Linked DNA regions of Homo sapiens: region 2 is linked to region 1. The links come from fine-mapping of genetic effects on gene expression. A gene starts in region 1. The other region holds a variant in brackets. All regions are shown on one strand. Distances are from middle to middle. Region 1 holds the start of LRP1 (LDL receptor related protein 1). Region 2 overlaps LRP1 (LDL receptor related protein 1).

Evidence for each region.
Region 2: its variant is fine-mapped to the expression of LRP1 in whole blood (INTERVAL, PIP above 0.99).

What each region holds. Positions count from the first base shown.
Region 1 is chr12:57,127,089-57,129,986 of GRCh38, reverse strand. It overlaps LRP1 (LDL receptor related protein 1), which reads right to left and starts at 1,504. Exons shown (of 89, transcript NM_002332.3): 1 at 956-1,504. The coding sequence starts at 1,022. RefSeq lists an enhancer at 1,844-2,497.
Region 2 is chr12:57,149,492-57,152,389 of GRCh38, reverse strand. All of the region lies in intron 6 of LRP1 (LDL receptor related protein 1), which reads right to left. Among named protein-coding and RNA genes, the nearest start is that of LRP1-AS, 3.3 kb to the right of the region's middle. RefSeq lists an enhancer at 2,444-2,898. The variant T/C (reference allele first, on the strand shown) is at 1,242.

The DNA of each region.
Region 1 (2,898 bases):
TGCAATATACAAAGTGTGTGTGTATGGGGTTTTGGGCTTGGAGGGGTGCAGGGAATAAACAGATTTACTAAAGGAGTGTGGGGGCACAGCCATAATCCCCATCCAACCTCCAACTCTCCTTCCAATCCAAACTGTGATGAAGCCAGAAGTCAGGAAGAAGGCAGCCTCCCCCACCCTCCTACCCCAGCATTCCAGGCCATTCTCCAGTCCCCTTCCCCAGTGATGACATCTGACGTTTTTTCATCTCAAAGCTCCCAGGAATTAAGAAGGAAAATTCAAAGTCACATAGTATGGCGAGCTCCCCCTCTCTGCCCCCCAACACAGCCCTACCCCAGGCTACTGACAGAGGCCCTGAGAGGGGGAAGAGCCTACTTCAGCACCCAGGCCTCCAGCCGGGGCTCTGGGGTCGATTCCACGCCCAAGCAGGGGGCCCTCCCTCTCCCCACCCACAGCCTTCCCGGGCCTGCCTGCCCTCTGCCCGGCAGGGTACCCCTGGCCTGGCTCCCCTTTCGAGCTACAGAGGCCAGTGCAAAAGCCACCCCCCCCACCCCCACCCCCTTTTGCAGCCGAACATTGCAAATCCGGATTCCTTCACAATTCAGATGGGGGGTGGGGGGTTGTGAGGATGTAGGGGAGGCGGAGGCCCTCCCCGAACAGAGATAGGAAAAGAAGGCCTCTCCTCCCCAGGATCAGAAAAATGGGGAGCCCTCTTCTCTCTACCCAGGCCTCTGGTCTTTGTTTGTGCTGGGGGGCCCCGGAAGCATCATTTGCCCAGGGCCCCCATCCCCCAAATCGGACCCCATCCCCGCCCCCAGTCGGGCCGCTGCTGTGTCAGCTGGACTGGGATAACAAAAGGCACCCCCTCCCGCGTCTCCCTTCCCCATCCGTATGCAGGAGTGGGGGCTGGGGAGAGGGTGCCCCCAGGGGTCCAAGGGGGACGCGGAATCTCACTCACCGTCGATAGCCGCCGCGACCAGAGCTGAGAGCAGGGGCAGCAGCAGGAGCAACGGCGGGGTCAGCATGGTGTGGGCTGATGCAAGCAGCAGCCCCTTCCCCTCTGGTCCTGCTACTTCTCTCCTTCACCCCCCCCAGTTGGGGGGTCCCCCTTTTCCTCCTTTCCCCCTCCTCCTTCTCTGTTCTTATTCTTTCCTTCGGCAAAGCGCACCAGGGGCGTGGGTGAAGAGGTAGAGTTCCGAGCCCCTTGGGGAGGGCCTGCTGACGGGGGTGCGCCCCCTGCCCCGAAATCCAAACCCTTCACCCCACCCCCCCGCTTCACTCCTCGCTGCTCTTTCCCCCTCCCCGGGCGAAGCTCACAGCCCCATCTCGGAGCCGCCTCCGGCTGCAAAAATGCACAATTGGGAGGAGGCGGGGAGGGGGGGTGGGGGGCGTGGACCGGGTAGGGGAGCCTTTGGAGGGGGCTTGATGGAGCTCTGGGGGCTCCCCTTGTTTCCGCCTCCTCAGTGCATGGGCCTGGAGCTCGCACCGCTGTTCCCCGGACTGAAGTGCCGAGGGGGGGGCTGATGGGGGAGAGGGAGGGGACGGGTTGAGGAGGGAGGGAGGGAAGGGGCGGGGAAAGAAAAAAGGTTGGTGGGTGGGGGGAGAAAGAGCTACGCGGCAATCCAGTGAGTGCGCATGCGCCGATTTGACGCGCTGCCCGGGGGAGGGCGACGCGGACCCGCGACAGGGTTCGGAGTTCTGGAAAGCGGTCCAAGAGTGAGGGTCCCGGGGACTCGCTGGCTAGTTTGGGGCCTGGGGCGCCCTCTCCCCTGGCTGGGCCCTCCTCCCTGGTGCTCCAGAGAGCAGAAGGGGTCGAGGGTGGGATTGGGCAGTGGGCGGAGAGCTGAGCGGCTCCCCTTTGAAACTCAGTGTCATACTCTAGGATTTCAGGCTCCCTCCGGGGGCGTCCGGGACTCAGTGGTCTGGGCCGAGGCTCGATTTTCTAGGGGAACCCTGAAGGTGCCTCCTCTGCCCGGGGTGGGGACAGGGACCGCCAGTCCGCGGGGAAGGTGCAGGGAAAGGCTGAGCTTTGATTTGGAGACTTTGGAAGACCGGACTGGGATTGGGGCCTGCGAAGGAGGGGGCGGGGTTGGGGAGGGACCGCGAGGACCCGCCCCCACCTCGCTCCCGGGCTCGGAGTAAACAGGGACACCCGAGGGGACACGCCGGAGCTTGTCCGCCCGCGTGGGGCTCGGGGATGGAGCCCACCTTAGTACCCGCCCGCCCTGCTCGCCCAGCCCTAGGCGCGGGAGGGGCAGGCCCTGGTTTGGAGGGAGGTGAGTCACCAGCGGGTGGGGTTGAGGAAAGGCCACCCCCTTTCGCCCAAGAAGTCGGGGCTCATTTATTTTTCTGTTTTTTTTTTTTTTTTTTTTTTTAATACCTTCTGACTGGCTTGCCATCAAGTTAGGGTTTTAGATTCCGAGCGCCAGGATTTGGAATAAGATGAGGGACTCTGGACCTTCGTTTCCAGGCCTCGGGTTCCAAGGAGGTGTCTGCTGAGCGCCGGACCTTTGTCCCCAGGCTCAGCCCACACGGGAATGATACTTTGCAGAAGGCAGGCGCCAGGCGGTTCCCAGGGGCCAGTGAACGTGCTTTTGGTCACTGCCCCCTTCTGGGCGGCGTTTTATGGCTGTTACCTTAGTGTCTGACTTTCTAGGTGTCTGCATGTCAGAGTTCAAGGAGCGGGGCAGACGACGTCGGCTGCCAAAAATTGACGCTGGAGAGGAGGGACTGTTCCCCCTTTTACGTTCTAGTTACGGAAAAGTCCCCACTCCAGTCTGTCCTTGGCAGAAACAGGAGCAGCACGAAGGACTTGCCTCCTAATGACAGTGAGCTCAACCTTTAGCTTCTTCCAGCCGGCTTTGCTCAGCGCGGTGGCCACCTGCCTTTAGTCTCCTGGGC
Region 2 (2,898 bases), 22 kb before region 1:
ACGGCAGGGGTCTGGGGGCTGCTGGCATGTGTATGAACTTCATCAGTGAAAGCTGTTTTCCCAGCACCAGCTGGCGCAGCTACGGCCGGCCTTCTCTCCGACTTCCTGAGGCTTCCCTGAGTCACTGCCCAGCCCTAGGGCTGGCAATACCCTGCCCCTGCTCCCCCTATCCACCCTTCTCTTGGCAAGAGAGAGAAGGAAGAAACCTGCAGAGATCTGATGCCGCTATCCCAGGTGCAGCTCCACAATCAGCCCCCCCAGCCTCAGGATGTGGCCTGGATTCCCTCCCAATTCCGGGAAGGAAGGCAGAGAGATCATCCCTGCTCTCAGATATTTACCCTTGGCCGGTCTCCCTTCCACCTCCCCAAAGGCCAGGCAGGGCCCCACTCAGCAGGCCGGTGAGGAGTTGGCAAGAACTGGAGTCCTCGGCCTGCCTGGCCTCCCCTTTGGTATTTTTGCAGCTGGAGACTATTAGTTGCAAGCAAAAATCCTTTGTTATCCAACCCCCTGCACCACATTATTTTTCTCTCTCCTAAAGTTCAGATTCCTCTGCCTGCCCCACCACACACACACGCACATACGCACGTATGCACACACAAATGCACGCACAATCACACACACACACATACACTTGGCCACCACTCCAAGGCCAGTGTAGAGAGATGGGCTCAAAGGGAGAGGAGGAACCTTGCCTCCAGGGCTGCCCTATAGGCAGTATCTGGGCCACCCCTCTCTGTCTTATGAATTGGGGTCCAGGTGGAGTCCTGGGCTTCAGCCCAGAGATCCTGAGCATTCTGGCTCCACCAACCCTGAGGGGAGCCGTCCCCTTGTCGCCCAGCCTTCTAAGGGCCAACCACCTGAGCGCACCTTCTGAAGAGGCTCTGGCCAAAGGCCGAAAATCCTGAGGACAGGAGAATCTCAAATAAACCAAAGGGGAGAGAGGGAGGCTGTGTTGTGGAAGGAGTTGGGGGTGGTCTAGGGGCAGAGGGGCAGGGGATTCCAGCATGAAGAGGGAGGCTAGGAAGCAGGGAAGAGGTGCAGGAGTCAGACGAGAGACCACAGCTGCCCATTATGGCACAGAGGACTTTCAGTTCCAGGCCCCAGAATAGACCTGGTGTCCTGGCACCCCATCCCACTGCTCAGCATCTGCACTCACTACAACTCCAGCTTTTCTCAACTTCTCCATCATTCCCATTGTTCAAGAGGCATTTCCATACATGGTGGCTGCTTTCCCAAACACA[T/C]GGGACCCACCCCATGCCCAAAAAGACTCTAGCTTCAGCTGCAGGATTCTAGTCACCTGCTCTAAAATAAGGAAATCGGAAGGAAGGAAGAAGCCTTTATGTCCTGAGAAAATGTCACCCAACACATCTACACACCCAAGAGTGTATACACATCCAAAGAGGTCCCTGGACCTCTATCCACATCCCCAGGGAGCACACTAGATTCTGGCCCTTGTTCCAGGAACCTCCCCACCTCTCCTCATATCATTCTGCTCTGCCCTGGGTCCAACTGGGCCCTAGACACTGACAGCCTGAGTTTGAATTCTGGTTCTGTCACCTTCCAACTGAGGCTATGAGCAAGTTACTTAATGCCTCTGAGTCTCTGTTTCCTCATTTGTAAAACTGGATGGTACACTAACTGCACTTAGCATGAGGCCTGGTGCATGATAAACACTCCCCACATGGGGGCTGCGGTTCCCACCATGTCCTCCCCTCCCTGAACCCATCCTTTCCCACCTTTTCCACCAAGTCGCCCTCTGTGCCTCCAGCCAGAGCCCTGTGGCCTCCTGACTCTAGGTGGGCCCTCCAGGTGGGCCATTTGGGGCTAACACCTACTACTCGTCAAGACTCGGCTCAGGCTCCCAGAAGGAAGCTTGCCCTATTAGAAGGAAGTTTTCAAGGCCAGGCTCAGTGGCTCACGCCTGTAATCCCAGCACTCTGGGAGGCTGAAGCAGGTGGATCATGAGGCCAGGAGATCGAGACCATCCTGGCTAACATGGTAAAACTCTGTCTCTACTAAAAACACAAAAAATTAGCCAGGCGTGGTGGCGGGCACCTGTAGTCCTAGCTACTCGGGAGCCTGAGGCAGAAGAATGGCGTGAACCCGGGAGGCAGAGCTTGCAGTGAGCCAAGATTGCATCACTGCACTCCAGCCTGGGCGACAGAGTGAGACTCCATCTCAAAAAAAAAAAAAAAAAAAAGAAGGAAGTTTTCCTGTTACAGGCTCCATAGGCCTCTGGAGCTTCTTTGATCATGGCCTCTTCACCTGACTGCAAATACTGTAAGGAGAGCGCTGCCTTTTGTCTTTGTCTCAGGCGTCTGACACACATGTATTGATCCATTGAACAAATATTTATTGAAGACTGAGTCTGTTGTTCTAGAGCTGGGACATCATTTTCCCCCTCTCTTCTACTGCCAGGATCCTGCCTCTCTGGCCTTGGGACACTCCAAGACAGTGGGAGAGGACAGTCTGTCTAGTAATCCTACTCAGGGATCTCGCCTGGGCCTGGGAGAGATGGCGGAGAGTCTGAGGACTTCGAAGGTGGGAAGGAGACCTCCTGGCGAGCCTGGCAGAAGCTCTGCTAAACGATGTGGCCTCATGCTCCTTGTTTCCTGCTGGGTCCCGACTTCAGCTCTTCCTTCCACCAGCCAGTCTGGAGCTTAGCCGTGTTGTGTCACCTCGTTCTCCTGGGCTCTCTTCCTGCTCCTGCCTGTGATTCCAGCCTGTGGTTATGTCCTGCTACCTTCCCCTGCCTGGCTTAGGTCCCCAAGAGGCATTTCGACCTAGATCCCAGGGATGATGCCTGGATTCCACTCAGCCCATCTTAGGGTCTTCCCTCTATTGAGAAATCCTTGCCGGGCTCTAAAACACATCTCTCTTGCTTAAGTTACTTCCTTT